2 separate regions of the Homo sapiens genome follow, and region 2 is linked to region 1. The links come from fine-mapping of genetic effects on gene expression. A gene starts in region 1. The other region holds a variant in brackets. All regions are shown on one strand. Distances are from middle to middle.

Evidence for each region.
Region 2: its variant is fine-mapped to the expression of WDR35-DT in adrenal gland (GTEx, PIP 0.98).

Annotation. Positions count from the first base shown.
Region 1 is chr2:19,984,560-20,001,202 of GRCh38, reverse strand. WDR35-DT (WDR35 divergent transcript) reads right to left here and starts at 10,999. Exons shown (of 3, transcript NR_110235.1): 1 at 10,709-10,999; 2 at 1,926-1,997. WDR35 (WD repeat domain 35) reads left to right here and starts at 11,098. Exons shown (of 27, transcript NM_020779.4): 1 at 11,098-11,211; 2 at 11,921-12,038. The coding sequence starts at 11,188. It overlaps MATN3 (matrilin 3), which reads left to right. Exons shown (of 8, transcript NM_002381.5): 5 at 637-762; 6 at 3,944-4,069; 7 at 6,794-6,904; 8 at 8,037-9,151. The coding sequence ends at 8,092. It also overlaps the pseudogene RNFT1P1. RefSeq lists a silencer at 10,878-10,957 and enhancers at 11,118-11,167, 10,798-11,301, 11,318-11,367.
Region 2 is chr2:20,025,888-20,042,530 of GRCh38, reverse strand. It overlaps LAPTM4A (lysosomal protein transmembrane 4 alpha), which reads left to right. Exons shown (of 7, transcript NM_014713.5): 2 at 1,520-1,640; 3 at 4,917-4,993; 4 at 5,093-5,215; 5 at 7,469-7,564; 6 at 8,116-8,214; 7 at 9,252-9,881. The coding sequence ends at 9,326. Among named protein-coding and RNA genes, the nearest start is that of LAPTM4A, 17 kb to the left of the region's middle. The variant C/T (reference allele first, on the strand shown) is at 8,947.

The DNA of each region.
Region 1 (16,643 bases):
TATGGTTATGTAAATTACTGTTTGGGGAAACAGGGTGAAGTACAGGAATTTTTTGCACTGTTTTTGCAACCTTTTCATAAATCTGAAATTATCTCAGATGAAAAGTTTAAAAGTAAAAAATAGTTTAAAAATATATCAGTAGAGAGGAAAGTGCATTGAATGAAAATGTGTGTCTTGAGTTTTTATGCTGCTCTGAATCAAATGGTCTCCCTCGCGCTCCTTTCCCTCATTTAAAAAATAGGAGAGGGTTGAACTACAATTTCTTCAAACTCTAATTCTATGTTTTTCTGAATCTAATGTAATTAGCCACACAACTGTTGGTATCCCGCTGAGTTGGGATAAGTACAATAAGCCTAAAAGGAATGCTAGAAAGTATTTATGAGATACTTAGGTTATAAAAACTCAATACTGATGATTTCCAAAAGCAATTGTGGAAGGTCAGAGAATAATTATTGTATGTGCAGGATTTCACTTAACTCAGTTAACTTCTAGTTAGAAAAAAACAGTGCCAATGGCTTTGAATAGTTTCCAGTAAGTTTTCCTCATATGTTTCCAGCTGCAAATAAGGTTTCTATCCTGGGTAATAAAATACTTTTCCACCTTCTATTTCTTTTCTCCTGACTTTTTGTTTCACAGCTCAAGATAAATGTGCTTTGGGTACCCATGGGTGTCAGCACATTTGTGTGAATGACAGAACAGGGTCCCATCATTGTGAATGCTATGAGGGCTACACTCTGAATGCAGATAAAAAAACATGTTCAGGTAAGATCCACTCAAAAAATTCTTTCATACTTGGGTCTTTCACATGAAACCAACTTGCAACTCACCAGCAAAGAGGTTTTTAAAGGTAACTTAAGATCAAGGTTCAGACATTCTATCACACTTTTAGATGAAGGCACACATTGCTCAGAGGGTGGTGAGCTCACTGGAGCAAACATAGATTACTTCAGAAAATTACTGGGAAATAGGTAGGGAGTGGGGGATATGAGAAAAACTAACTAAATGTAGGGTCCTTATCCAGGAAAATTTTATAGCTCTGTACACTGAAGACTTTTAAGCAAAGAGAAAACTTTAGTGGAAGTCAGTTGGACAGTAACTATTTGGTGTGATAGGATGAACTGATCTTTTTCCAGTTAAAACTTGGCCTGGAACTTTTCTGTAGTGTTAATCTTAAAGCTGGATGATTTTAGTAAAGAAGACTTTGTGAATGCCTGAATTAGACCCACACAGATCTTCCAGTAAGTTTGAGGCCAGTCACTCCCTGGCAGTTTCTAGACGATCAATCATTGGTGAAACTCAGCCTTATACGTTGGCCAATGAGCCCAGGCCAGTGCTGTTAATCCTCATTAATTTGATTTAAACTTACTGGCAGGACAGGGTGGCATTTATAAATGTAAAAACACTCCTGAGAGAAATTCCAAGCTCTCAAGGTGCCGTTTAGCTTTGGCATATTGAATGTGTTTTAGATTTGACATATATTTTCCTCTCCCTTGAGGACATACAGACTTCATCAAGATAGACAAAGGGAAATGGCATGTCACCCAGTCCCCTCTTTTTTTTTTTTTTTTTTTTTTTTAAAGGGAAACCAGTAAAAAAATACCGGACACCTACTTTGTTCCCAGTATGGAACTAAGCATTGGGAGCATACAAAGAAGCCTAAGTTTCTGCCTCTGAGCAAGTTAAATCTGGGTGAACAGAGAGCCGGCTCCTTATGAAAGCAGAGACTGAGCCAGGGAGAGGGACTGATGGAAACAAAGGGCTGTAGAGGCTGGGGAGGTGGGCATCTGCGAAGGGCTGGTGGTGGGCCTTGAAGGAGGGTGAAGGTTTCAATGGAGACAAGTGGAAAGTGGCACTGGCGGGGGACTGGCTTGAGCTGATTTGTTCAGGGCAGGATGACTAAGAAAGTTGGGGTGGAGAGAACTCACCTATGGCTGCACTTCTCAAACTAGTGACAAGTGTCCCAGTTGGTACTTTAAGCTGCCAGGAACATTGAAGACCTGGGAAAACAAACCAAAAACAAATTTCCATTTAAACTAACAGATAGTATGGAATAAAGTGAAGCAATCTATTTTAAAAAAAAACATAAATCAAAGAAAATTTTCAGTTAAGGCAGACAACACTCCCAGATGCCAGTATTCCATATTCTTCAATACCTACTGTAGGCCATGCAGGATTCTAGGCATTTTAGATACAGTAATGTACCTTAATACTCACAGCAACGTTAGGAGGAAACTGATTCAGTAACTTGCCCATGGTTACTCTGCTAGCAAGTAGCAGACCCAGGGTTTGAACCCAGGTACTTCCTCTAGTGGTTACATAGGCTCTTAACCACTAAGCCTTACTGTCTTAATGTACAAAGCACAGGACAGTGAAGAGGGACAGAAGAGAAAGAATACTAGTGGGAAAGTTAGTTATATATATATATATTTTTTTTTCTTCTCTTTTTTGAGACAGGGTCTCATTCTGTCACCCAGGCTGGAGTGCGGTGGTGTGATCTTGGCTCATACAGCCTCTACCTCCCGGGCTCAAGTGATTCTCCCATCTCAGCCTCCTGAGTAGCTAGGACTACAGGCACATGCCACCACACCTGGCTAATTTTTGTATTTTTTTGTAGAGATGGGGTTTTGACATTTTGTCCAAGCTTGTCTTGAACTCCTAAGCTCAAGCAATACACCTGCCTTGGCTTCCCAAAGTGCTGGGATTACAGGTGTGAGCCACTGTGCCTGGCCTATTTATATATTTTAAAGTAATAGTGAATACTGCTATAAAGCTGGGGAACATACCATGGATCAGATCCCTTCTAATGGTCTGCTTTTCCGTTGCTAGTGGTAGGAAGGCTTGTAAATTAAATGTGGAGCCCCAAATAAGGGCCAGGGGCTGGAAGCATGTCCATTTGCCACCTGTAGAGTGGGTACTAACCTGGAATGAGGGGGAAAAAAATGAAACACCCTGCTATAAGGCATTTTGCTGAAAAAAAAATCTAAATTGTAGCACTGAAAGGGAATAGCCATATTAAGGTTGGAAAGGCACTTTATGTATAGATTATATAGCGTCTCACATTTCACAAGAAGCTATTCTATAGGCATTAGTGAGCCACAAAAGGTTCTGCCCATGAAATGACATTTAAGAGGAAAATTAGAGGGAAATAAACTATTTTGGTTCCTGCAATGGCAGAGGAGGAACCTATGTCTTCCAGGAAGGCTTTCTGGATTTCAAAGGAGAATTACTGTTTTATTTGTCCTAGGCCAGTCTGAACATGGGATGAGTATGGCACTTTGCTCTCCTCTCCACTCAAATTTGGGCAAACTGCATTTGTCCCTGAAATGTTATTTGTGATAGATAGTAAGTACTTCACTCTCTAATCATACACATCATCATTACTAACCCTGTATCATTTCCCCATCTGTGCTTGTGTGTGTGTGTGTGTGTGTGCATGTGTCTCCTGGTCAGTCTTTTCTGTTACACTTTGTAAGCTATGAAGGCAGGCACTTGGTCAATATAGTGCTTTTTGTGCAGCATCAAACTTAGCTCCATGTATGATTAGGTCCCTAAAACATTACTTTTGGTGATGATGATGATGATCCATGAGTAGCTGGGGATGCTAGAAGCATTGATAGTCATCGGGAAAGGCTGGAGGTAAGTTCTGGAATATAGTCAAGACTCAGTGCTGCCCAGTGCTGTGGGTAGAAAAAAAGGAAAGGTACCCTTAGATATCTGTGAGAGATATAAAGGAAAGGAGTGTGTGTGATGTGAGGCCAAAGGGATGAGAGGTATGGGAAGAGAAAACAGGCTTGCTCCTGCAGCATGGGGCCTGTTGCTGACTACTGACTACTACATTCTCAGCACTTGTGGGGACCAAATGGAAGCTTCTCCTCTCAAACATTTGTGTTTACTTTTCTATTTAATGTGTGAATATTTTCTTTCCTGCACCACGTGCGGTCAGTCCGTGACAAGTGTGCCCTAGGCTCTCATGGTTGCCAGCACATTTGTGTGAGTGATGGGGCCGCATCCTACCACTGTGATTGCTATCCTGGCTACACCTTAAATGAGGACAAGAAAACATGTTCAGGTGAGGATCAGCCCTTTAAGGCTATTTCCTTTGGTAGGAAAATTTTTCAGGAGCAAGCTTTTTTCTTTCTGTCTAAGACACAGTTGTGATTCTTTCTCCCTGTCAGAATTCTCCAGTGGCTCCCACTGGTCTACAGAATAAAACAATGATACCCCTATACCAGGCAGCCTACCCTCCATGATCTGTTTCTGTCTTCTCTGTTTTTCACATTTTTCTTAATAACTAAACTTTCTGCCTAAGTCTGAATTTTTTTTATTGTGGTAAAATACACATACAATTTACCATTTCAATTATTTTCAAGTGTATAGTTCAGTGGCATTAAGTACATTTACATTGTTGGGCAACCACCACCAGTATCCATCTCCAGAAATTTTTTATCATCCCAAAATAAAAGTCTGTGCCGATGAAACAATAACTGCCCATCACCCGCTCCCCTCAGCCCATGGTAACTACTTCTCTCATCCTGGCTTTTAAAACTTTTCTACTACATTTGCCCCCAGATTCACTGCTTCTTCCTGCATCCTGGTCCAGCCACAGTGGGCTCTTTGATGGTCCAGGAGCATGCCCTGCACTCACTCATTCCCACCCTCCCCTCAATGCTTTTGCTTGTCAGAATTTGCTTGCCAACATTTGGTTTTGTTGAATTAAATTTTTGCCAATCCAGTGGATGTTTTTTTCATTTCCTGGTTACTAATGAGGTGAGGCATCTTTTCCTGGAGAGTACTGCCATTTTAACAGTCTTTCATTGCATTAACATGGTATGTCTTTAATTTAATTTAATTTTATTTTATTTTAGGTCTTCTTTAATTTCTTTCAAAATTGTTTTGTAGTTTTCAGTGTACAAGTCTTGTACTTTTAAAAATATTTATTCCTAACTATTTTATTCCTTCTGGTGCTATTATAAGCACCATTTCTCCATTTCTCAACTTTCAATTTTGCTACAACCCAGGTTTGAGAAATGGAGTTTGAGATCCATTTCTCAACTTTCAATTTTTCTACAATCCAGGTTTACAATTTTCTATGAAGTGTTGTAATTAAGACTATCCCACTGAACCCATGCCCTGCTAGAGCTTAGAGACTATCAGGCACGACAGACACTGAACAAGTATTATATATACCCATCTTATGGGTACAGGGATAATGGACATGTAGTTGATCTTCAATAGATACTTCCTGGTTTATTGACTGATTAACTAAGATGGGATTTGGACTGGCTGTCCCTAAAAGGTTCAATAGGATTCAGACAGGTGGATAGATGATAGATTATATTTAATGAATTTATGATCTCCCATCCCTATATTGGATCTTTGTAAAATGTTAAGAGTAAAAATGTTGCAGCAAAGGACCATTTCCTGTCCTCAGGCAATAGAATTACTCCATTGGAAGATGATACACCAGTCTTCAGACCTGGGAAGTTACTCTTATTTCTATTCACAACTTTAGGAGGAGCCCTGATACTGAATAGGAATAGCTGCCTGACTGAATTCCATAAAGAAATAGGAGTTACTTTTATCACCTCTCATATTTGGTTAAATGTCAATACAAACGTGAATTTTCAGTTCCAAAGTATTTATTGGTAAGAACTAGGACTCTTACTTCAAACCATTAAATAGAATAACAGTCCTCTAGAGGAAATCAGGACTTAACCTGGTTTTTATCCTTTTTTTTTGTTTTGTTTTTTGAGACGACATTTCAATCTGTCACCCAGGCTGGAGTGCAGTGGTGCGATCTCAGCTCACTGCAACCTCTGCCTCCCGGGTTCAAGCAATCCTCCTGCCTCAGTCTCCCGAGTAGCTGGGATTACAGGCATGGGCCACCACGCCCAGCTAATTTTTGTGTCTTTATTAGAGACGGGGTTTCACTATGTTGTCCAGGCTGGTCTTGAACTCCTGACTTCAAGCGTTCCACCCACCTTGGCCTCCCAAAGTCCTGGGATTACAGGTGTGAGCCACTGCGCCTGGCCCTAGTTTTCATCTTTGGTATATTTTAGCCATACAAATAGAGGACTATTGTCCTAGTTTTATTTTTATTTATTTATTTTTAAGAGACAGGGTCTTACTCTGTTACCCAGGCTGGAGTGCAGTGGTGTGATCATGGCTCACTGCAGCCTTGAACTCCTGGGCTCAAGTGATCCTCCTGCCTCAGCCTCTCGAGTAGCTAGGATTACAGGTGTGTGCCACTATGCCTGGCTAACTATTTTACTTTTTTGTAGAGACAGGGCCTTGCTTCGTTGCCCAGGGTGGTCTTGAACTCCTGGCCTCAAGTGATCCTTCTGCCTCAGCCTCCAAAAGTGCTGGCATTATAGGAATAAGGCACTGCACCAGGCCCATTTTCCTTTCTTAATTACACAGTATTACATAAACATTGTCTTATTTCTATATCCCTGGCCTCCCCCTATACCAACCATGTTTTTCTAAATTTACTTTATATCATGAATAATTTCTGGCAATCACAAAAGTACAGAGAATAAAATAAGGAACCCTCACTTAAGCATCACTCAGCTTTGACAATTATAAACATTTTCCCCAATGTATCCTAAGATGAATTTTTCTGTGATAAGTATTTTCTCGTCTTTTTGTTTGTTCATCTATCCCTTTACCTCTTGGAAAATGCACTTAGGTAAGTCTTAACGGTGGAAATATTCAACTGTGGATTTCCTGATTTGTTATGATTCCTATATAGCTATTCCTAGATAGTATATTTGTGTACTGTCATTGTCTTCAGCCACTGAGGAAGCACGAAGACTTGTTTCCACTGAAGATGCTTGTGGATGTGAAGCTACACTGGCATTCCAGGACAAGGTCAGCTCGTATCTTCAAAGACTGAACACTAAACATATCCTTTCTGGAAGGTTTTCTCCTTCTGCCTGGAGCCAACCAAGGTACTACGATCGAGCCAAACACTTTAAGACATTCCACAGGCAAGTGACTTATTTGTTAGGTTTTAATATGAGCAGTGGTAATATACAACTTTAAAAAATTTAGAGTTCTTTTCTAATGGTTTAATAGACTGTTTCACCCATTCAATATTTACATGTAAAAGCTGCCTATTTTGTCCCCTAGTGCTTTTCCATAACTGTATATGCTCCTAATGATGCTCTTACATAACAGATGGAACATTTATGCTAATGACTCCTTAATATGGCTTTCTTAGTTCAGAATCTGAACATGTACAAAGCAAGTCAGCTGATTAATGGGGTGTGATATCTCAGATTACACACAGTTGTACCCTTTGACTAGCCAAGTGGTCAAAAAGCAGATTTTAAAATGTAACATGATACAATCTCAGAAACTTTCAAAATCAGTTCTTTCTTCAAAGGAGTAACTAGGGAAAAGTTTCTCAGAACAGTTCAAGTTAACAACTCTGTTCCTATGTACCCCAGAGGAGTGGAATTTAGATTGTGGTAGGTACAATCTAGGCGTATGTAGAGACTTTTAAGGGAGGTACAGATAATTGGAAAGAATCAATTTCCAAATCCTTCACTTGCTTAAGACACTACTTGGAATCAGCTGGCATTTTCTTTTCCCGTCTCTCATTTCCATATCACCATTCTCCTAACTTCACACAAGAAAGGCATACTTCTCATTTACCCTAGATCTACTAAGGTGCATTTGTTAGAACAGCAGAATCTTGAGATAGCCAAACAAAGGGACAATCCAACTATCCCTTTAATCAATACTTCATAAACACTGCTTCCCCCATCCCTCACACTAAGATGCTACTCCAATTACATTTTATATGAACAAAAACATCTGAAGACCACTGCAGGGGTCTACTTTTATTGTGCTCTCTGAAGAACAGGATTTTTGACTTTTAGACTGAATTCAACTTTTGGTGAGAAAACAGTTTTGCTCTTTTTTTTCACTTCTCATAGGACATAATTATTTTATCTTGTGAAGTGTTTGAAAGTGTGTTTATATTTTCTAATGTGTAAAAATAAATGGTGTTGGCCTTAACAACTTGCCACTTGATGACATTTTGGAGAAGTTGAAAATAAATGAATATGGACAAATACATCGTTAAATTGCTCCAATTTCTCACCTGAAAATGTGGACAGCTTGGTGTACTTAATACTCATGCATTCTTTTGCACACCTGTTATTGCCAATGTTCCTGCTAATAATTTGCCATTATCTGTATTAATGCTTGAATATTACTGGATAAATTGTATGAAGATCTTCTGCAGAATCAGCATGATTCTTCCAAGGAAATACATATGCAGATACTTATTAAGAGCAAACTTTAGTGTCTCTAAGTTATGACTGTGAAATGATTGGTAGGAAATAGAATGAAAAGTTTAGTGTTTCTTTATCTACTAATTGAGCCATTTAATTTTTAAATGTTTATATTAGATAACCATATTCACAATGGAAACTTTAGGTCTAGTTTCTTTTGATAGTATTTATAATATAAATCAATCTTATTACTGAGAGTGCAAATTGTACAAGGTATTTACACATACAACTTCATATAACTGAGATGAATGTAATTTTGAACTGTTTAACACTTTTTGTTTTTTGCTTATTTTGTTGGAGTATTATTGAAGATGTGATCAATAGATTGTAATACACATATCTAAAAATAGTTAACACAGATCAAGTGAACATTACATTGCCATTTTTAATTCATTCTGGTCTTTGAAAGAAATGTACTACTAAAGAGCACTAGTTGTGAATTTAGGGTGTTAAACTTTTTACCAAGTACAAAAATCCCAAATTCACTTTATTATTTTGCTTCAGGATCCAAGTGACAAAGTTATATATTTATAAAATTGCTATAAATCGACAAAATCTAATGTTGTCTTTTTAATGTTAGTGATCCACCTGCCTCAGCCTCCCAAAGTGCTGGGATTACAGGCTTGAAAGTCTAACTTTTTTTTACTTATATATTTGATACATATAATTCTTTTGGCTTTGAAACTTGCAACTTTGAGAACAAAACAGTCCTTTAAATTTTGCACTGCTCAATTCTGTTTTTCGTTTGCATTGTCTTTAATATAATAAAAGTTATTACCTTTACATATTATCATGTCTATTTTTGATGACTCATCAATTTTGTCTATTAAAGATATTTCTTTAAATTATACTGAATTAACAGTTATTTTGATATTCAACAGTTTCTTATCAAAAGACAGAAGTTTGATTCTCCTCCTATAGTTTAATCTCACACTCCTGAGGCTAAAAGTGTAAGTTCAGGTTCAAAAGAAAGGCTTCAATATAAAATTATCTAAATTTGGATAAAATAATGATGAGCTTTACATTAATATAAGCTCCTGAGAAGCAAATATATCCTACAGATGTAAATATAAAATATAAACTTTAAGGAAGGAACAAAAACTAAATATACCAAGGAAATATATAAAGCATCTCTTACTTTTCAAAAATTTTGAAAGGGTATGACATAGAGCTACAGTAGTATTTTCCAGACTTTTTTGAGCCCAAAATCAGTAATACATATTAATATACCACAGAGAAATGGTGGTATAGAAGGAATAAATGAGAGTTCATGTGCAAGAAGGGAAAGATAAAGAGAGGTGAGTTTTCAGGTGTCACCATCAGTAACTAGCTTCAACTAATTATGTCTTGACCAGTTTATTGGAAACTCCTGGGTTAGATAATACTAATTTGTCTCATGCGTCCAGTATAGGGAGCCTATGGACAGGGGCCAATGTATCTTAAACAGACACACAAACAATGGAAAGCAAACATTATCTGAATGGGATTGGGTTAAGTTTGGAAAGAATTCCTCATGGAGACTGATTTGTGCTGGTTTGGCTAGGCACAACTGGCCTGTTAAGAGGGTAGGACCATATATAAAGTGGCTTGGGAAGCAGAGCCGGATGGAATGTTGCCCTGCAGAAAGCATATTGGCTTACTTGAGGTGGGGGCTCCCTAGTAAAAACATTTAGGATTGAGGGAAGATCTGATTTTGGATGGAGTTTAGATTTGCTAGGAAAGGCACTAGGGACTATTGTCAATTCTATAATAGATTGTGCTGGGTGAGACAAATCACCCAGGTCAAAGGATTGGAGGATTTTTATTTTATTTTTGTCTGAGATGGGAAAAGACTCCAAGTGGGGAAATTAACTACTGATGCATAAATTACATGCTAGATTATGGTAAAAGGGAAAACCAGAAATAAAAACATAGGTGAGACCAAATAATTTCATGAGTGGTTCTACTTGGATTTCTGCCCTATGCCTTAGACTTTGAGGCTTTGTAACTCTCAAGCATTCCAAAAGGACAAAGGAGAATGAAGAAAGAAGGTAAGAAAAAGAAGAGAATATGTAACAGTCGACTCTAGACGAGAAAACACCAAACGCTCAAATATTTGTAAAATGGGAGGCCATGCCCCAATAGCAATTGTACGCTGTAATTACCCAACGTTTACAGAAATTCCTTTAAAAGGACCCTCGGGGTTGCGGTAATAATTAAACTGTTAAAAAATATCAAAACAAGCGGAATAAACAAAATCTTCTATTCCTAAATTGCTCTAGAGGTTCTCCAATCCCCAAAGACACAGAGAAGGGTTGTAAGATCTCAGTACGCACATTTGCACTTTCATCTGGCCAGTGGCGCCAGCCTATCAAATACAGTAAATGGCTTTTCCCTTTCAAGAATGTTGGAACTTTGGAACTTACAAAATACTAAATAATTTGCCCTTATTCGAACGGGCGCCTCTCCTCTTAGGTTTATAGTAATGCCACCTGAGGCGCGGCTCCATAGCGATCATCACAGGTGTGGCGGGAGGGAGGGCGGCAGTGACCACGAGACGGGGCGCAGAGGGCGAGCGCACGGCTGGCAGTGACAGGTCGCGACCCAGCTCCTTGCGGAGAGCAGAAAGGCCCAGACGCCAGGGAACAGGACTAGCCCAGCTACCGCCTCGCGCCTCGCGCCCTGCGCCCACAAACCCATCGACGTCCGCGCAGGCGCACTACGCCGGTGCCCGGTGCGAGGGCGTCACCGGAAGTGTCCCGCGGCGCCCCGGATGCGACCGGGCAACAGCGGTTGCCAGGGCGACGGGAGCTTTCCGGAGCTGCTGGTACTCCCGATTGGAGACGTAGAACCGTTACTTGTCGAGGGCCTTAGCGGCCGCCGTGACCCTCTCGGGGATCCCACGATGTTCTTCTACCTGAGCAAGAAAGTGAGTTTCCTGGGGGGCGTCCTCGTTTCTCCGCCATTCCCGCAGCCTGCGGCGATTCCCGCTGCCTTCCCGAGAAGCCAGGCTCCTTCACCCGGTCCTGGTCGTGGCTTCGCCATTCCGCAGCCATCCTTCCCGCCGGGTCCAGCCTCCGACCTCTTCCTGCGGTTCCCAGAGCCTCAGTCTTTGGCCGAGCTTGCTGCCCTCTCGCAGCACTCTCCCATTCCTGCCCCTGGCTAGGTCCTTTTGGGTGGCTTGAGGATAAGTCGCCACGTGCTACCCTATGTTTCCTCCTCCACTTGTTGCTGATCCACGTGATTTAAACTCTTTGGATCACCACGAGCCATTGGGCAAGAGAAAAGAAATAACAATAGGATAGCCTAAGTTGTAGGTAAAAAGGAAGAGGGACTGGTGGTATGGATTTATACCCTCTCCCCGTCCTCCCTTTAAAAAATCCATCCGGTGAGACTCTGGCGTTGGCTTCCTCCGCAGTCACTATCCTTCTCTTTTGTGCACTTCTTTCCCTCTTTCCCAAATGCTAGAGCCCGGGTCAGTTCAGGGGACCATGCCCATTTTCACAACAGCTCATTTTTTTTCTGCAAGGCCGTTCGTTTTTCTTCTTGGAAGATTTTCTTCAGCTTTCATCTCCTGCAGACTTACTTCCCAGCTCCTTCGTGAAAAGTTGCTAGTGCGGCTGTGGTTGCTTTTTCAGATTTCCATTCCCAATAACGTGAAGCTGCAGTGTGTATCCTGGAACAAGGAACAAGGGTTCATAGCATGCGGTGGTGAAGATGGATTACTGAAAGTTTTGAAATTAGAGACGCAGACAGGTAAATGAATGCAAGCCCACATGTTTGGTAGTAAATTGGCTAATGTTATTTGTTCAGTGCGGTCTACTCATGTTATCTGTCAATATGCAGTTCTGATTATTTTAAAGGGAAAACTACCAAAACATTTTATGGTGTTTTTCTGGAGTATATTTGCAATAAAGTTCAGAGAATGTTGAATGTAAACATCGGATGGTTTTTGCTGAGTTATTAATGGAAAATGAAAAATAATGAAGAATGAAAATAAGTCACTGTGTTATGCTATGTCTAATTATTGTACTATATTATTAGGAGTCTAAAAGAAATCCTGTGAGTCAACATTTCACTAAGAAAATCTGGCAGATTGTTTACAGGTCTGTGTCATCCTTTCTGCTTATCAGATGCATTAATGGTTATTCACCTAGTGTCCAAGAACAGAAAATGGGATACGTTTTACATTTCTATTAGTAGGTCTCTTGTCTTTGCTGCTTGATTTCTTTCTTTATCTAGTTCTCTGGAATCACAGCAAACAGCTTCCCACTTCTTAGCCCCCCTAGATTGAAGACCTAGATAAGGTAATTGGAGTTAAATCTCAGCTCTTCCACAAGACTACTGAATGACTTTCAACAAGTTAGCTGAGGATCTTACTACTTTAGTTTAGTCTTCCATAAAATGAAAATGTAGGGGGTTAAACTGCATTACATTTTTGGATTCCTTACAACATAGCTTCTCAAACTGTATTAGGTATAAGAATCACTGGAAGAGGTTGTTAAGATGGATTTCATGCTCTACCCCCACACAATAGACCCGGGATGGGGCCTGAGAATTTCCATTTCTAGTGAAGCTGAGTTGCTGGTCCTCAGACCGCACTTTGAATAGCATTACCTTACAACTTTGAATGCGGTATGAATAATAAATACTTATTGACGATTTTCCATGTAGTGGATGTTTAACCTTCACAATCTTATTTGACTTCACAATAATCTTGGGCAGTAGGTATTCTAGGTGAGAAAATTGAGGCTCTGAGCTGTTAACTGCCCTAGGTCACGCAGCCAGTAAGTGGCGGAACAAGGATGTGAAACTAAGTTTGTCTCACATTCAAGTCCTTGTTTTTAACCACTACACAAAGGGCTAGTGGACAGCCTAAGTAAAGAAGAGTACCAATTAAAGTTTGGCTTATGCTGTTTTATAGTTCAATCTGTCAGTGCTTTAGTTTTTTAAAACTGTGTTAAAAGAAAGTTTTTCTCTGTTTCTTAAATGTGTATATAGATATATATATACGTGTGTATATATATATATGTGTGTCTGTATATACATACTTTTGCTTACAATATTTGGCAAGTTTTTTTTTTTTTTTTTTTTTTTGAGACAGAGTTTCGCTCTGTTGCCCAGGCTGGAGTGCAGTGGCTGGATCTCGGCTCATTGCAAGCTCCGCCTCCTGGGTTCATGCCATTCTCCTACCTCAGCCTCCCAAGTAGCTGGGACTACAGGTGCCCACCACCATGCCTGGCTAATTTTTTTGTATTTTTAGTAGAGACAGGGTTTCACCGTGTTAGCCAGGATGGTCTTGATCTCCTGACCTCGTGATCTACCCACCTCGGCCTCCCTAAGTGCTGGGATTACAGGTGTGAGCCACCGTGCCTGGCCTGCAAGTTTTAAATTACATTAAGAAGTGCATTCATTTTGTTTAACATTGAAGGCTTTTTTAAAAACAAACTTCTTTTTCTGCTCTGCCCTTTTGATGAGCTGTGACTGGAGTATTCTTTGAAATTAGTGAACAAGATGGGAAATCAATTCTTGGGAGGTTTGGAAAATGGAGTAAAGTATTTGTTTTGGAACTGAATGATTATGAATTGTGCTGAAAGAAATAAATATGAGGAATATGGCTGTGAGAGTCTAACAAGATCAGTATATTATATTTAATACAACTAGTGTTGATTCAGCAGATCCGTCCAGTAACAATCATAGATATTGCATGCCTGCTTTCTATGAAGCACTGTGTTGTGCTAAAGATGCAACATGTGAAGTATAATGTGTTGTAGTTTGGGTACAGCAACATAATACAGCAATCCTCTACGTCCATAAATCATCTTCTATGGCACCATTGTTAATGTCTATTTAGTATTTCATTATATTGGTATTAATATATCATAATTTGCTTAACCAATTTTAGTATTGGACATTTAGGTGTCTCCACATTTTTACTATTAAAGCAACTGTATCTTTGTATCCAAATCTTTGCATAAATAGTTAATACTTTCTACGATAAATCTCTAGAAATGGCATTCACTGGATCGAAGAGTGTGTACATTTATACAAGTTCCTAATATGTGTACACAAATTACCCTCCAGAAAGTTTGCACCACATTGCATTTCCAGTTTTCAGTTCCCTGCTCTAGAAGGAAAGGAATTAGAACCAGCAATCCATCTTTTTACATCAGGTTTACTTCTCTCACAGGCCAGCTTCCAGTGTTTTGCTGGAGCCCATCTCCCTTCACCTTCTCAGGTACCTTTCTGCCAATTTATCCTCTCTCTCTCCTTTCAATATCAGTCCTCTCTCCTTTTCTCTCCCTCACCAGTGACTTTCATGTTCTAAATCTAATGGACAGCTTTTATTGACTCATCAGGATTTGACTTGAAACATTATTTTTCCAGACAAGAGAATTCAGAATGTTTAAGTTATTGTTATATTTAGACGTACTACTTTTCTCTCCTTCTCTGGTCAGTCCTCAGTCTCTTTGCTAGATTTCCCTCTTCTATTAGAATTCCTGAGAACTTGCTTCTGGGCTCTCTATTCACTTGCTCTATTTATTCTTTCATTCTCATGCCCTTAAATGCCATCTGTGGTATGAGGTGAAGAGCCCCACATTTATATCTCCAGCCCAGTCCTGATTTTTCAGACGTGGGTGTCTCCACTGGAGTCTTTCACAGGTATCTCCTATTTACTGTGTTCAAAACCGAACTCTTGATATTCTTCCAAATCTCTTTCAATTCTCTCCATTTCAGCAAATATCTCCATTTCACTCATTTGCTCAAGCTGGAAATCTTCTCTTTTCCTCCGTTAACAACATCTGCATCAGCAATCCTGTTGCTTTTGTCTCCAAAGTGTATGTTGAACCCATCCTTTCCTTTGTCTCCCCTGCTCCCTCTATAGCTCCAGCTACCATCATCCCTCACCTGGTCTATTGTGAGAATCAGTTTCCCTCCTTCCATTGTCTCTGGCTTCCTCTTAGTCGTTCTTGACACTCTAGCCAGTGTCAGGCTTTTTTTTTTTTTTTTTTTTTTTTTTCCCGAGATGGGGTCTCACTCTGTTGCCCAGGCTGGAGTGCAGTGGTGCAGTCTTGGCTCACTGCAACTTCCACTTCCCGGGTTCAAGCAATTCTCCTGCCTCAGCCTCCTGAGTAGCTGGGATTACAGGTGCGTGCCACCACGCCCAGCTAATTTTTTGTATTTTTTTTTTTTTTTTTAGTAGAGACGGGGTTTCACCGTGTTAGCCAGGATGGTCGTGATCTCCTGACTTCAAGTGACTCGCCCGCCTGGGCCTCCCAAAATGCTGGGGTTACAGGCGTGAGCCACTGCGCCCGGCCCTTTTTTTTTTTTTTTTTTTTAAAGGGACCAGATGATGTCATTTCCTTGCCAAAAGGTATTTAAAGGGCTGACAGCCTGGGTTGGAGCTGCTTGTGGTAGGGTTTGAGGATGATGGTCCTGGGTTGGAGCTGCTTGTGGTAGGGTTTGAGGATGATGGTCCTGGGTTGGAGCTGCTTGTGGTAGGGTTTGAGGATGATGGTCCTGGGTTGGAGCTGCTTGTGGTAGGGTTTGAGGATGACGGTCCTGGGTTGGAGTTGCTGGTGGTAGGGTTTGAGGATGATGGCCCTGGGTTGGAGCTGCTTGTGGTAGGGTTTGAGGATGATGGCCCTGACTAGGATTGAGGTGGCATTTCTTGCTTTTTCTGCTACGACTGCCAAGGCCTCCACCCTCATCCTCATGAGAGGAAATAGAGAGCCCTGGAAGCCAACATTTGCATCAGAGAAAAAGTATATAGGGCCATGGAAGCCAACTGCAGCTGACTGCGCAGTCCTCCGGTACCTGCAGGCAGTGACATTGCCTCAACCTTCCAATATGCCCAGGACAACAAAATTGACCAGAAATCTCAGGTAAGGTGTCCTTAGCTAGACCCAGGGATGCATACAGAGTCCTTTGCAGTCAGTCATTCACACAGAGAAGCAAGGCAACCAGATGATCCTGCCAGAGAATCTGGCGAATATGGTACCATCTCTTTCTCAGAATTGTATTATCCTTATGTGTTGCAAAACAGTCTTCTGTATATTTTGATTCTAGGTTTCAAGCTTATTTTGCAGCATGTAACAGGAATTTCTGTTGAAATTGGGCTGCTGACAACTTTTATGAATGCAAACAAAAGCATTGGCAGTCACGCTTTTCTAAGAGAAAGATTCTCAAAGATTTAGTGTGCTTGGTTATTGGTGTTATTAGCATGATCTTCTGTTCTTCTATGTCATACCTTTTGTTTTCAGTTGCTTTATTACACCTTAATTTTTTAAAAGCCTTCTTTGGACTTTTTGATGTACTTCGGATTGTTGGAATAACTGATTTCATTCTGAAATTCCTTTA
Region 2 (16,643 bases), 41 kb before region 1:
AGATGGAAATACTGATTACATGCTGATCCTAAATTCAGGAAGTTGAGACAGTAAATCTGTAGTGTGTCAGAATCCACATCCAGAAAATCTTCATAGGCAAGAATGTAATAAGATGAAACTCAATTACAGGTATATTAAGGCCTATGCTTGGGCCTCTGAATCCAACTGTACAGGTGGGAGCTTAGCACAATCAAGTGTGAAAAAGAACTTGGTGTTTTAGGGAGTTACTCTCATGTGATATTCAGAAAATTTGTAAAGCCAATGCAGGCTGGGTGCGGTGGCTCATGCCTGTAATCACAGCATGTTGGGAGGCTAAAGCAGGAGGATCACTTGAGGCCAAGAGTTCAAGACCAGCCTAGGCAATATGGTGAGACCTTGTTTCTAACAAAAACAAAAAACCTCAGTACAACTTCAGGTTGCATTAATTGAAATTCGTTAGCCAGAATATGAGAACTGAGATCCCATTATGTTCTGACCAGGGTGACTTTACCTCATTTTAATATATGTCCATCAAACTGGAGCATGTGTAAAGAGGAAGACAAAAGGGAAATAGGTAGCTAGGAAACATGCTAGTCAGAGGAATGGCTTAAAGATCTGCATGTCTATTCTAGAGAACACAGTATTTGGAGGCTGTTTTCAGGTATTGGAGCACTTATTTAGAAGGGAGAGCACATTATCTCAAAAGGTAGATTTAAGGCCGGGCGTGGTGGCTCACGCCTGTAATACCAACACTTTGGGAGGCTAGGGCTGGGTGTATCACTTGAGGTCAGGAATTAGAGACCAGCCTGGCCAACATAGTGAAACCCCGTCTCTACTAAAAATACAAAAATCACCCGCGTATGGTCGTGGGCACCTGTAATCCCAGCTACCAGGTGGCTGAGGTGGGAGGATCACATGAGCCTAGGAAGGGGAGGCTTCAGTGAGCTGAGATTGCACCACTGCACTCCACCCTGGGCAATAGAGTGAGACTCCATATCACACACACGCACACATACACATACACACACACACACAAAAGTAAGACTAGTAGATAAGTGACTTTCAGTATCTTGGTAAGTCTCTTAAGCATTTGAGTCTAGCTCTAGAGGAAATAGTGAGTTCTCTGTCACCTGATGAGAGATGCTGTGGAGGGGTTTCGGGCATCTGATGAATAAATATAACAGATGAACAGTAACTTCTTCAAATCCAGAAATTCTGAGATTGGTATATGAATAAATAGGTAGCTTCGAACATGAACCATTTGTAATGATTCTTTAGTTTTAATTTTTTTCTGGTGTATTGGTTAAGCATCTTATCTCTCAAATGGTTAATATTACTTATACTTTATAAAATATTTATTTTTAAATTATTCTCATAGTGGTAATTGCGTATTGTTTTATCTCACAGGTAGTCTCCCACTATTTTATATCTTTGTTACTTCAAGTAAGACAATCTTAAATATGAGAGGACATCTAGAGATTGTGCTAAGATTGCGTCGTGATGGTAATTAATGTAACTGATAGAATGTTATCTTTTCCAGGTAGTAAACCTATTGATGGCAATTTTGCTGACTGTGGAAGTGACTCATCCAAACTCCATGCCAGCTGTCAACATTCAGTATGAAGTCATCGGTAATTACTATTCGTCTGAGAGAATGGCTGGTATGTGTTTAATAGAAAAACAAAAAAATCTCCCCTGCTAATTTTTATATACAGTCCTGTGTTGTTTAATGATGGGGACACATTCTGAGAAATGTCACTGGGTGATATTGTTGTGTGAACATCATAGGGTGTACTTACACAAACCTAGATAGCGTAGCCTACTATACACCTAGGCGATGTGGTAGAGACTCCTAGGCTAAAACCTGTACAGCAGGTTACTGTACCGAATACTGTAGGCAGTTATCATACAGTGGCAAATAGGTGTGTATCTAAAGATGGAAAAATATAGTAATACTGTAAATACACTATTACAGTGTTATGGAACCCTCATGATATATGCAGTCCATTGTTGACCAAAATGTTGTTGGCCCATGTCTGTCTGTCTCCACACACACTGGTTATTTAGGGGATTGATTAGATTATGCTTAAGTTACATTTCAGAAAGTTAAAATGGTTACATAATAAGGGTAACAAGTTAAATTATATTTAAGTCATTCTTGCTGAGGCAGGAAAGTATTTTGATGGGTTTTTCAGAGAGATTCAGTGAGGATTACAATAGAGCATTTCTAGCCAGAAAATGTAATGGACTATTAAGTTTTTGAGAAATGTGTAAAATGTACCTTGAAATCAAAATAAGCATGCAGGCTTCATAAGACTTTTTTTTTAATGTAGCTACTAGTAGAAAGGAGAAGTTGCTATGGTTACAATATATGTGTCCCTCCAAAATTCACATGCTGGAGCTTAACCTCCAAGGTGATGATATTAAGAGGTAGGACCCTTGGGTGGTGATTAGGCCATGAGGGCTCTACCCTTATGAATGGGATAAATGCCTTTCTTTTTTTTTGAGACAGAGTTTTGCGCTTGTTGCCCAGGCTGGAGTGCAGTGGTGCGATCTCGGCTCAGGGCAACCTCTGCCTCCTGGGTTCAAGCGATTCTCCTGCCTCAGCCTCCTGAGTAGCTGGGATTACAGGCACACACCACCACACCCGGCTAATTTTTTGTATTTTTAGAGTTACTCCATGTTGGTCAGGTTGGTCTCGAACTCCCGACCTTAGGTGATCCACCCGCCTCAGCCTCCCAAAGTGCTGGGATTACAGGCGTGCCACAGCGCCCAGCCAGCGCCCTTCATTTTTAAAATCACATTTATATTATTTATTTGTTTAAAAAAAGTTTTTTAGAGAAAAGGTCTTACTTTGTTGTCCCAACTGGAGTGCAGTGGTACAGTAATAGCTCACTGTAACCCAGAATTCCTGAGCTCAAGTGATCCTCCCACCTCAGCTGCCTGAGTAGCTAAATTTTTGTGGAGATCGGGTCTCCCTGTCTTTACCAGGCTGGTCTTGAGCTCCCGGCTTCAAGGGACCCTCCCACTTCAGCCTCCCAAAGTGCTGAGATTACAGGCATGAGCCACTGTGCCCAGCCCATAGCAGACTCTTGAAAGCCGATTATTTGAATTACAAATTTTGCTTTCAAGTTTGATAATACCTGTTTAATTTCATATTTTGTTTTTACCTGAATTCTTCTAAGTGGAAGTTTGCATGTTGTAGCAGGGAAGTCCTTTAAATTCTTAACATTTATCAATCCTGTATCCTCTAAGAAAAAAGTAAAGAGGACTATTCCTAGTTTAGTGCCAAATATTGATGAGGTTTTACTGCCCAGTGATAAATTATATATACATGCTGTGCATGGTGGCTCATGCCTGTAATCCCATCACTTTGGGAGGCCGAGGCAGGTGAATCACTTGAGGTCAGGAGTTTGAGACTAGCCTGGCTAACATGGTGAAATCCTGTCTCTATTAAAAATACAAAAATTAGCTGGGCTTGGTGGCGCAGGCCTGCAATCCTAGCTACTCTGGAGGCTGAGGCAAAAGAATCTCATGAACCTGGGAGGCAGAGGTTGCAGTGAGCTGAGATTGTGCCACTGCACTCCAGCCTGGGTGACAGTGAGATTGTCTCAAAGAAAAAAAAAAAGTTGTATATACATTTACCCAATAGGGAATATTCAGCAGTTGTTCTAGTCATTCATCATTATTAGTGCCCTCAGTATTTTTTTTCTTTTTTCATTTTTAAAACATCTTTTGTGCATACAGGGTCTTGCTATATTGCCCAGGTTGGTCTTGAACTCCTGGCCTCAAGTAATTTTCCCACCTTAGTCTCTCAGAGTACTGAGATTACAGGTGTGGGTTGCCGTGCCCATCCCCCCCAGTTTCTTAATCTCTGCCCAGACGGATCACCTGATGTTGGGAGTTTAGACCAGCCTGGCCAACATGGTGAAACCTCGTCTCTACTAGAAATACAGAAATTAGCTGGATGTGGTGGTGCTTGCCTATAATTCCAGCTACTTGGGAGGCTGAGGCAAGAGAATCACATGAACCTGGGAGGTTGAGGTTGCAGTGAGCCGAGATCGCGCCACTGCACTCTAGCCTGGGCGACAGAGCAAGACTCTGTCTCAGGAAAAGAAAGAAAAAACTGTCCAGAGTCACAGAATCAACTACAGATTTGTGCTAAGAAATTCAGTAAGTCAGGCACGGTTTAGAATTGCTTGAGATTACTTGGCTGTTTTGTGAAAAAATTAGTGAACATGGATTAATGGAGAGTTGGAACAACCTGAGGAAGAGTTGAGAAACGAAGAAGAAAGTAGTGTGTGTTAACATAGATACCAGGGTGCAGGAAGCAATGAATTTTGGTGTTTGGGAGGTTGGGTGGGGAAGTGAGGTTAATGGCGAAATTTGAATTTCAGGTTATATTTATCTAGAGCAAAGGGTAATGTATGTAGCATTCTGAGTTTAATACACTTGTCTTTTAAGCAATTGCCAGCCATTCCTTCCAGCTAAACCCTACTCATAAGACCCATCTTGTGTCATTTCTTCATATTTTTTCCTGATGCTTCAGGCAAAGCAAATTGTTTCTGCCTCTGTTGTAGCACTTGACACATTGGATTATAATGATCTGTTTGCACATCTTCAGATTCCTGGGCTCATAAGGGCACAGGGACCTGTTTCTCTAGCAGAGAATGTGGTTCATGTGCCATCCTACACCCATGTCAGTGAGTCGTTGGAGCGATTTAACAAATAAGTGCTTTGTGTGAATGTCTCAAGGTTCCTTACTTCATGCTGAGACTTTGATTTTTTTTTTTTTTTTTTACCCTCTTGGCCTTAGATCTTTTTATAGCCAATTTTGAAAATATTTAAATTTAATATTTTAAAGCTAGCTTTAAGTGAAGTTTTGTTCTTTTTGTTGTGTAAGTAGCTTAATTAGATTTTTGTTTTTGTTTTCTTAGATAATGCCTGTGTTCTTTTTGCCGTCTCTGTTCTTATGTTTATAATCAGTTCAATGCTGGTTTATGGAGCAATTTCTGTAAGTATACTGTATTTTCATCTTTTAGAGTTTGACCTTAGGGGAGCTTAGTAATTTCCTATATGTGATACAATGTTATGGTTGTTATTTTTTCTCCAGTATCAAGTGGGTTGGCTGATTCCATTCTTCTGTTACCGACTTTTTGACTTCGTCCTCAGTTGCCTGGTTGCTATTAGTTCTCTCACCTATTTGCCAAGAATCAAAGAATATCTGGATCAACTAGTAAGTGTGTATGCTCATTAAACTTATTTTTTTTTCATTTTGAGTAAAATGTTTACATTTAAATTCTGAATCAGCCTTAGGTATTATTTTTAACTACTCCGCTTGCTTTTGAAAGTGTCTTAAAATAATTATTTCTGCTCTCTTAGCTACTGTGACAAAACTGGCAAGATGAAAGTAGAGTAATTTCTTACCATCCATTTGGATAATGCAGTATTAAGAGTTCCTAGAAATGGATATTATGGAACTAGTAGTTCAGCTTTTGTTTTTGAGCATCCAAAGGTACAGTAATTTGACTGTGTATGGCACTCTTTAAGTGACTAGCTTATTGTCTTTACAGACATCTGTAGCAAGTATTCCAGTGCCTACTATGTTTTTAGCCCTTTGCTAGGCACTGTTGGTGAATGGTGTGGATATAAAGATAACTGCGAATATTACAGTTTAGCGAGCAAACTGTAATATTTGGGGAGTCAAGATACATGAAGATGTTACCTGTGATAACAAGCGGGAGCTGTCACAGCAGCAGCAAATAAGGAACTTCGATTAATGTCATATGGAGGGGGGCAGGGAAAACTCTGGGCTGGGTGGCCAAGGAGGGCGTCGTGGAGGTGGTCAGAAGGAGATATGGGATCTAGGTAGATGAAAATTGGCAGGAGTATCCTCAGTTCATTTCCAAAGTGCTGTCTTTCAGAACTTTTCTTCCCACTACCAGATTTCCTGCCTAGCCCATTTTCCACACCACCAAATTCATCATTCATTTATTCAGAAAACATTCGCTGGTTGCTCTTATGTGCAAGGCACTCTGCTAGGTCATAGAGATGCATCAGTGGAGCTTACTTCCTGGTGAAGGAATCAGGAAGTTGACAGTTAACTGATACACCATTGTAGGTTACTGTGGGAGTGGATATCACATGGGTACTAAACCTGGGCTGGGAAGTGAGATTTGAATTGTACTCAGGAGTTTGAACAGGAATTAAGATAGAGAAAGTATAGAAGACAATGTTCCAGATAAAAGAGAGACCTTGAGGCAAGAAGCAGCATAGTGAGGGCACTAGAAGCTGGCCATGGTGGCTGGCACACAGAGGGAGGGTGGGGAAGCCTGGAGAAAGGTGGCCAGGGGCAGGGCTGTTGGCCTGGTCAGCCACGGTCAGCGGCTTCTGTGTGGCTCTCTGCTCATGTCATCTCCGGGGGAGAAATTTCAAGTGGTGCCTCCCTGCCTTCTGAGTAAAACCCTTAGCATAGCATTCCCTCATGAGCTCCACCTTCTGTGTTTTTCTTTTTGTTTATAGATGAAGATCAAAAAAACAGCTTTTTTCCCAAGGAGACAACCTGGCTGGGGTTTGGGGAGTAGTGTGTTCTTAAAATTTTTTTTTTCTATTTTTTTCAGTCCTTTGGGATTTCTGTTTATGTTGCTTTTTAAATGAAAATGTAATTAGGCCTTCTTGTTGACATTTCCATTAAAAACAAGCATAACTTAAAAAAATTAAATCAGCTTTATAGAAAAGAAGATAAAAATTTATTATTCCTTTTAGAGACCCTGGTGTTTTCTCTCCTCTGTTTTGTTCACTTAGTGCCTCAGACTGGAAGGTATTTCCTCTGTTGGTTAGTTTTTAAATCTGAAATTCTTCTTTTATAACACCTTTCTCCCTGAACTTAGCTCATTGCCTTGTACACAGTCAGGGCTGATTAAGTATTTAAATGAATATAGCTGATGCTTTTCAGTAGAACAGAGTATGTCTGCAGTAAAACTTATGTCTTGCCTGACATTGTAACCAGTGGGTGTATTTTTGCCCCTGTCTGATGAGAGTTGAGACAAACGATTGACATTTAGAAAAATAATTTTCCCCTTGTAGCATTAAAATGGCCCAGTTTATCTGTAGAACTTACACAGAACTGAGCATCTCCTGAGTTAATGATGCAAGTGACACAGGGACTGATCTCCAGTGCCATATAGGCGATAGTGTTTTTCCAAAGGCCAGAAAGATGGAAAATAGTGAAAAGTAAAGAGAAAACGAGCTAAATTTAGACTTTTTGGAGCATTGTGGGTTATCAAATGTACTCTAAGTGATTGTTAGCATGCATTAATGGTGATAAGGCTTAAAATTTAAAAGCACTTTGAATTAAATTCTGCTTATACATTTTTATTAAATATCACTTTTGACTTTGGTGCCTTTGTATTCTTCAGATGCTCTTCAGGTTATCAGCAAGTGCTAGTGCGATGGCTGACTTGTAAATGTGTGTGTGTTTCTTTAATAGCCTGATTTTCCCTACAAAGATGACCTCCTGGCCTTGGACTCCAGCTGCCTCCTGTTCATTGTTCTTGTGTTCTTTGCCTTATTCATCATTTTTAAGGTACGTTGCTGACTAAATCTTTAGGGGTGACTGAGATTGACACTGTGAATCTAAACCTTTTTGCTGCCTTTCACCTTACAAGTCACAGGAGATTGAGGATTTGTGGGGACAGTGTTTATTCTGGCACATGAGCAGAGATAGCTTCTAGGGAATGGTTTCTGTTGTGTTTCCAAGGAATGGTTGTAACTGTCAGGATCCTTCTCTGAGTGAAAGGACCTACTTTTTATGTTTTTGAAAAGGGGTTCATGATTTGTATTGAAAATCTGTTAAAATTCCCAAGGTTCACAAACCCAGAATTTCTTCTGCAGCACAGTGGGTTGACCTGAATTGAAGCTCCATCTCTGGTTTCTCTCTGAAATGTTGGCGATGAAACTCATGACACTTAAATGAGAGCAAGTAGGGAAAGGGCCTGGCCTGTGCTGGGTCCACACAGAGGTCAGCTCCCTTCTACACAGAGGATGTGTGGGGAAAGCATTCTAAGTCACTGGCATTTTAGAGCAGGTAGTCTGTTGAGTTTCTAGCAGATGTCAACTTTGTTTTTATTCTTCCAGGCTTATCTAATTAACTGTGTTTGGAACTGCTATAAATACATCAACAACCGAAACGTGCCGGAGATTGCTGTGTACCCTGCCTTTGAAGCACCTCCTCAGGTTAGCTACTGTTGGATAGAGTAAAAGGTCACCAGTCACTATTGACTGTTCCAGGAGAAGAACCTGGAGCTTGACTTTCTCTTTCATGCTGTAACCTATGGTTTGGGCATGAACCCTGGGTACTTTTATGAACAGCTTAAAATCCACAGGATTCAACATTTTCCACTTGGAATCCTGAGTACCTGGGTCGCTTGTCTCATCCAGTTTGGCTGTTAGATTTACTCATTAGAGGTCCTCATTAGTGTCATGTTTGTAGGGGAGATGACAGGAAACAGCTGTGTTAGGCCCATGTAGCCTGGGGCTTCTAAGGATGGGGAGTTCCATTGACTGAAACTTGTGTTGTTTTCAGAAAACATCCATATGATCCAACGGGGGAGCTGACCTGTCTGGGGAGATGAATACAGTGGTTTCATGGGTCTTTTGGGGAAGCCTACCTTTCACAGCCCTCTAATTGCTGCTGTGCTACCTTCCCAGGTTTTCAGCATATAAAATATATGTGGCCCATCTAGGGCCAGGCTTTCAGACTTGGAGTCACTTCGATTAGAATGTCACTCCTCCACTGCATAGGTGTGCCTGTTACCCTCGAAGACATGATATAAGTTCATGATCTTCTGACTACAAACTGATTCTGATGAAAGTCAGGATCCAGGAGCTAGCGTCTTATTGGGTGTTTCCTATTGCATGGTTTAACCCAACTCCTCAACACCTGAAGTGTAATTGGCACTGGCACTT[C/T]ATCGGTCACACTGGAATGAGGGCAGAGCAATGGCACCCACTGCCTGCCTGTCTAGGAATCCTTGTCCAGAAGCAGGACTCTCTCTCCCCACCTCCCTCTCTCCACCCTCCCCTTCGCTAGCAATCTTGGTAAAATTCCAGGTTATTGAGGCATCTACTTGGGAACATTTTAGCTAACAGTTTCTTCAGCTCTTCTTTATGGTTTTGTATAACCCTATTTAGGGCATAAAGTCTGAAAGCTGAATTATCTCACAAAGGATTTTAAAGGAGAATTAAATCTGATACAATTTTTTTTCTCTCTTTAGTACGTTTTGCCAACCTATGAAATGGCCGTGAAAATGCCTGAAAAAGAACCACCACCTCCTTACTTACCTGCCTGAAGAAATTCTGCCTTTGACAATAAATCCTATACCAGCTTTTTGTTTGTTTATGTTACAGAATGCTGCAATTCAGGGCTCTTCAAACTTGTTTGATATAAAATATGTTGTCTTTTGTTTAAGCATTTATTTTCAAACACTAAGGAGCTTTTTGACATCTGTTAAACGTCTTTTTGTTTTTTTGTTAAGTCTTTTACATTTTAATAGTTTTTGAAGACAATCTAGGTTAAGCAAGAGCAAAGTGCCATTGTTTGCCTTTAATTGGGGGGTGGGAAGGGAAAGAGGGTACTTGCCACATAGTTTCCTTTTTAACTGCACTTTCTTTATATAATCGTTTGCATTTTGTTACTTGCTACCCTGAGTACTTTCAGGAAGACTGACTTAAATATTCGGGGTGAGTAAGTAGTTGGGTATAAGATCTGAACTTTTCATCTGCAGAGGCAAGAAAAATATTTGACATTGTGACTTGACTGTGGAAGATGATGGTTGCATGTTTCTAGTTTGTATATGTTTCCATCTTTGTGATAAGATGATTTAATAAATCTCTTTAAATACTTAGGGTTGTCATTGTTTTTAATCCGTTACTTTTTTTTAAGATAAACCCTGACATTTTCCATTACAGTGTATTCAGAGTGCCAGTGTTTATTTTTTTTTTAACTTTGAGAATACAGTTGGCCCTTCGTATCCATGGGTTCTGTATCCATGGGTTCTATATCCATGGAGTTAATCGACTGTGGATTGAAAATATTTGGGGGGAAAAATGGATAGTTGGATCTGTACTGAACATGTACAGACTTTTTATTCTTGTCGTTGTTCTCTAAAAAATACACTATAACAATTTATGTAGCATTCACATTATATTAGATATTATAAGTAATCTAGAGATCATTTTAAAAATATGGGAGGATATGCATGGGTCATATGCAAATACTATACCATTTTATTATAAGGGACTTGAGCAACTGTGGATTTGGGTATCTGGAGGGAGAACCTGCAACCAGTCCCCCATAGATACCAAGGGACAACTGCACAATGATGCACAGTTAATTAGAAATCATTTTCTTAATCCATTAACTCTAAATTTGTGGTGAAGATATTTCTTGAATCACAGGACAGAAATTAATACCGGTGGTTTGAAAAGTGATTGCTGTAGCAATCTTTTTTTTATGTCTTATTTTTTTTCTTTCCAACTTCTTAGGTTCAGAGGGTACATGTGCAGGTTTGTAACATGGGTAAATTGTGTTGCAGGGGTTTTGTCAGTGTTTTGTCATCCAGGTTGTGAGCATAGTACCTGATAGCTAGTTTTTTGATCCTCACCCTCTACTCTCAGGTAGGCCCTGGTATCTATTACTCCCTTCTTTGTGTCCATGTGTACTTAATGTTTAGCTCCCACTTATAAGTGAGAGTATTTGGATTTCTGTTCTTGCATTAATTTGCCTAGGATAATGGCCTCCAGCTCCATCCATGCTCCTGCAGAGGACATGATCTTGTTCTTTTTTATGACTGTAGTATTCCATAATATATATGTACCACATTTTCATTATCCAGTCCACTGTTGATGGGTATTTAGGTTGATTCCATGCTTTTGCTATTGTGAATAGTGCTGTGATGAACATATGTGTACATGTGTCTTTTTGGGAGAATAATTTATATTCCTTTAGGTATATACCTGATAATAGGATTGCTGGGTTGAATGGTAGAATGTTTTAAGTTTGAGAAATCCCTTATGCTGCTTTACACAGAGATGGAACTAATTTGCATTCCCACCAACAGTGTGTAAGTGTTCCCTTTTCTCTGCAACCTTGCCAGCATATGTTTCTTTTTACTTTTTAATCATAGCTGTTCTGACTGGGGTGAGATGGATTTCTCTGATTATTAGCATTTCTCTAATGGTTAGTGATGTTGAGCATTTTTTCATTTACTTATTGGCCATGTGTATGTCTTTTGAGAAGTGTCTGTTCATGTCCTTTACCAATTTTTTTTTTTTTTTTTTGAGACAGGGTCCTCGCTCTGTCACCTAGGCTGGAGTGCAGTGGCACGATCTTGGCTCTCTGCAACCTCCACCTCCTGGGTTCAAGCGATTCTCATGACTCAGCCTCCTGTGTAGCTGGGACTACAGGTGTGTGCCACCACACCCGGCTAATTTTCGTATTTTTAGTAGAGATGGGGTTTCACCATGTTAGCTAGGCTGGTCTCGAACTCCTGACCTCAAGTGTTCCACCTTCCTCAGCCTCCCAAAGTGCTGAGATTACAGCTGTGAGCCACTACACCCAGCCTCCTTTGCCCACTTTTAATGTTGTTGTTGTTGTTGTTGTTTTGTTTTTTGCTTAAGTTCCTTATAGATTCTGAATATTAGACCTTTGTCATATCCATAGTTTGCAAATATTTTCTTCCATTCTGTAGGTTGTCTGGTTGCTCTGTTGATAGTTTCTTTAGCAGAGCAGAGAAGCTCTTTAGTTTAATTAGGTCCCATTTGTCAATTTTTGTTTTTGTTGCAGTTGCTTTTGGTGTCTTCCTCATGAAATCTTTGCCAGGGCCTACATCCAGAATGGTATTTCTTAGGTGTCCTTCTAGGGGTTTTGTTTGTTTTGTTTTTTCAGTTAGGTTTTACATGTAAGTCTTGATATGGGTTTGGATTTGTGTCCCCATCCGAATCTTATGTTGAATTGTAATCCCCAGCATTGGAGGTGGTGCCTGGTGGGAGGTGATTGGATCATGGGGGTGGTTTCTCGTGGTTTAACATCATCCTTCTTGCTGCTGTTCTCGTGATAGTGAGTTATTGCGAGATCTGTGTGTGTAGCACCTCCCCCTTCTCTCTCTTGCTCCCGCTCCTGCAATGTAAGATGCTTGGCTCCCCCTTTGCCTTCTGCCACGACTGAAAGCTCCCTGATGCCTCCCCAGAAGCTGATGCTGCCATGCTTCCTGTACAGCCTGTGGAGTGAGCCAGTTAAACCTCTGTTCTTTATAAATTATTCAGTCTCAGCTATTTCTTTATAGCAGTGCAAGAACAGACTAATAGAAGTCTTTAATCCATCTTAAGTTATTTTTATATATGGTGAAGGTGTCTAGTTCTAATCTGCATTTGGCTAACCAGTTATCCCAGCACCATTTATTGAATAGTCCTTTCCCCATTACTTATTTTTGTCAACTTTATTGAAGATCAGATGGCTGTAGTTTGTATGGCTTTATTTCTGGGTTCTGTATTTGGTTCCATTGGTCTGTCTGTTTTTGTACCAGTACCATGCTGTTTTGATTACTGTAGTCTTGTAGTATAGTTTGAAGTTGGATAATGTGATGCCTTCAGCTTTGTTCTTTCTGCTTAGGATTGCCTTGGCTATTCAGGCTTTTTTTGGTTCCATATGAATTTTGAAATAGTTTTTTCTAATTCTGTGAAAATGCCATTGGTAGTTTAATAGGAATAGCATTGAATCTGTAAACTGCTTTGGGCAGTATGGCCATTTTAACAATATTGATTCTTCCTATCTGTGAGCATGGAATCTTTTTCCATTTGTTTATGTCGTCTCTGATTTCTGTCAGCAGTGTTTTGTAATTCTCATTATAGAGATCTTTCACCTTCCTGGTTAGCTGTATTCCTAGCTACTTAAGTCTTTTGTGGCTATTGTGAATGGGATTGCATTCTTGATTTGACTCTCAGCTTGGGTATTATTGTTGTATAGAAATGCTACTGATTTTTGTGTATTGATTTTATATCCTGAGACTGCTGAAGTTTATATCTAGGAGCTTTGAGGCAGAGACTATGGGGTTTTCTAAGTTTAGAATCACATTTTCTGTGAAAAGAGATATTTTGACTTCCTCTCTTCCTATTTGGATGCTTTTTATTTTTTTCGCTTGCCTGATTGTTCTCACTAGGACTTCCAGTACTGTGTTGAATAGGAGTGGGGAGAGTGGGCATCCTTGTCTTGTTCCAGTTCTCAAGCAGAATGCTTCCAGCTTTTGCCAATTCAGTGTAATGTTGGCTGTGGATTTGTCATAGATAATTCTTATTGTTTTGAGGTTACGTTCCTTTGATGCCTCATAGTTTTTTAAGGGTTTTTGCCATGAAGGGATGTTGAATTTTATTGAAAGCATTTTCTGTGTCTATCGAGATGATCATGTGGTTTTGTTTTTAGTTCTATTTATGTGATGAATTACATGCATTGATTTCCATATATTGAACCAACCTTGGATCCTAGGAATAAAGCCCACTTGATCACAGTGGGTTGGCTTTTTGATGTGTTGCTGGGTTTTGGTTCATAAAAGGCAGTTCCCCTGCACACACTGTTGCCTATTACCCAGTTCCAAAGTCGATTCCACATTTTCAGGTCTCCTTATTTATGTTCTTCAGGGATATTGGCCTGAAGTTTTCTTTTTTTTTGTTGTGTCTCTGCCAGGTTTTGGTATGAGAATGATGCTGGCCTCATAGGATGAGTTAGGGAGGAATTCTCCTCAAGTTTTTGGAATAGTTTCTGTAGGATTGGTACCAGCTCTTTATATGTCTGGTAGAATTTGGCTGTGAATCTGTTTGGGACCTTTTCCAGTTGGTAGGAGTATTATTATTACTGATTCAATTTCAGAACTCAGGCTGGATACAGTGGCTCATGCATGTAATCCCAGCACTTTGGGAGGCCAAGGCGGGTGGATTGCTTGAGGCCAGGAGTTCGAGACCTGCCTGGACAATATGGTAAAACCCTGTCTCTACTAAAAATACAAGGTCAATGTGAAAGAAAAAATATTAAAAGCAGCTAGAGAGAAGGGGCAGGTCAGCTACATCAGGTTAACAGCAGATCTTTCAGCAGAAACCCTACAAGCCAGAAGAGATTGGGGACCTATATTCAGCATTCTTAAAAATTCCAACCAAGAATTTCATATCCAGCCAAACTAAGCTTCATAATCAAAAAAGAAATAAAATCCTTTTCAGTACCTAGGATGCAAGTCCACTACAGCTCGTGTGTCCTGTGTCCCTGCTAAGGAACAAGTTGGAGATGAGGACCTCTTACTCTCTTTTCCCATCTATATTTGGCACAGTGACCCACAAAAAGCTGAGGGGGAGGGAATTAAATGTTTTCTGAATGAAATAATTTCTCTCCCCTCCACAAATTTTATACTGCTAATAGATCATTTTCAATATAATTGGGAATATACCAGTACACATACTACACTTACATTTAAAGTTTCTGGCAATAGGAAACCAAGAGATCTTTCACTGATAAGTTGTACATTTTATTCCCTCTGGTGACTCACGCTGTTTTTCAGTCTGTGGCTAATTTGTTCACAGTTATCGTGGACTTAGCTTTGTTCTGAGCCTAATTGTTCCACTATCCCTTAATAGGCAAAGGATAGATGTGCTATTTTCAGAACTCCTGCTTTCAAAGAAGGAATGTGTTATAAATAAGCCCAAGAGTTGACTGAAAGAAAAAGTTGTACCTTTGCTTTTCTGAGGTTGCTTTTTCTGTAAATGTCATGACTTTGGTTATGAGAAAATAATTTAGAAACAAGATGAGTGTTGCCAAATAATGTGGAATTCCAGGCACACGAGAGAGGCAACACTGGGATGGTGGAATGAACACAAAGTTTGGCATCAGAAGGTTGAAATTCAATTCCTGTCTTCACCCAGCGATTACACTCTGACCCTGGGAAATTTAACTAGGATCTGAGCTTCAGTTTTTGCATCTATAAAATCAGAAAGATGCAAATAACTGACCTATGAACTCGGAGTTGTTCTTAGGATCAAGTGAGGTAACAGACCCGGAAGGGTTGGCAGACCATAAATTACTGTGCAAATATTATGAGGGTGTATGAGAGCAAGGAATGGCTGGAGGAAGGGCTGGAGAGGGAGAAAAGTATTTGACCTGGAAACCAGAAAAAGAGTGACTTTGTTCCCTGTCTGTTAGAAAGGAGCTTTGTACAGTAGTCCCCCCTTATGTGTGGGGGATATACCCTAAGAACCCCAGTGGGTGCCTGAAACCATGGATAGTAACAGTACCCTCTATATACTATGCTTTTTCCTATAATACATACCTATGATAAAGTTTAATTTATAAATTAGAGTAAGAGATTAAAAGCAATAACTAATAAAATAGAACAACTACAATTTTTTTAGGTTTTTTTTATTATTATTATACTTTAAGTTTTAGGGTACATGTGCACAATGTGCAGGTTAGTTACATATGTATACATGTGCCATGCTGGTGTGCTGCACCCATTAACTCGTCATTTAGCATTAGGTATATCTCCCAATGCTATCCCTCCTCGCTCCCCCCACCCCACAACAGTCCCCAGAGAGTGATTTTCCCCTTCCTGTGTCCATGTGTTCTCATTGTTCAATTCCCACCTATGAGTGAGAACATGCGGTGTTTGGTTTTTTGTCCTTGCGATAGTTTGCTGAGAATGGTGATTTCCAATTTCATCCATGTCCCTACAAAGGACATGAACTCATCCTTTTTTATGGCTGCATAGTATCCCATGATGTATATGTGCCACATTTTCTTAATCCAGTCTATAATTGTTGGACATTTGGGTTGGTACCAAGTCTTTGCTATTGTGAATAGTGCCACAATAAACATACGTGTGCATGTGTCTTTATAGCAGCATGATTTATAGTCCTTTGGGTATATATCCAGTAATGGGATGGCTGGGTCAAATGGTATTTCTAGTTCTAGATCCTTGAGGAATCGCCACACTGACTTCCACAATGGTTGAACTAGTTTACACTCCCACCAACAGTGTAAAAGTGTTCCTATTTCTCCACATCCTCTCCAGCACCTGTTGTTTCTTGGCTTTTTAATGATCACCATTCTAACTGGTGTGAGATGGTATCTCATTGTGGTTTTGATTTGCATTTCTCTGATGGCCAGTGATGGTGAGCATTTTTTCATGTGTTTTTTGGCTGCATAAATGTCTTCTTTTGAGAAGTGTCCGTTCATGTCCTTGGCCCACTTTTTGATGGGGTTGTTTTTTTCTTGTAAATTTGTTTGAGTTCATCGTAGATTCTGGATATTAGCCCTTTGTCAGATGAGTAGGTTGCGAAAATTTTCTCCCATTTTGTAGGTTGCCTTTTCACTCTGATGGTAGTTTTTTTTGCTGTGCAGAAGCTCTTTAGTTTAATTAGATCCCATTTGTCAATTTTGGCTTTTGTTGCCACTGCTTTTGGTGTTTTAGACATGAAGTCCTTGCCCATGCCTATGTCCTGAATGGTAATGCCTAGGTTTTCTTCTAGGGTTTTTATGGTTTTAGGTCTAACATTTAAGTCTTTAATCCATCTTGAATTAATTTTTGTATAAGGTGTAAGGAAGGGATCCAGTTTCAGCTTTCTACATATGG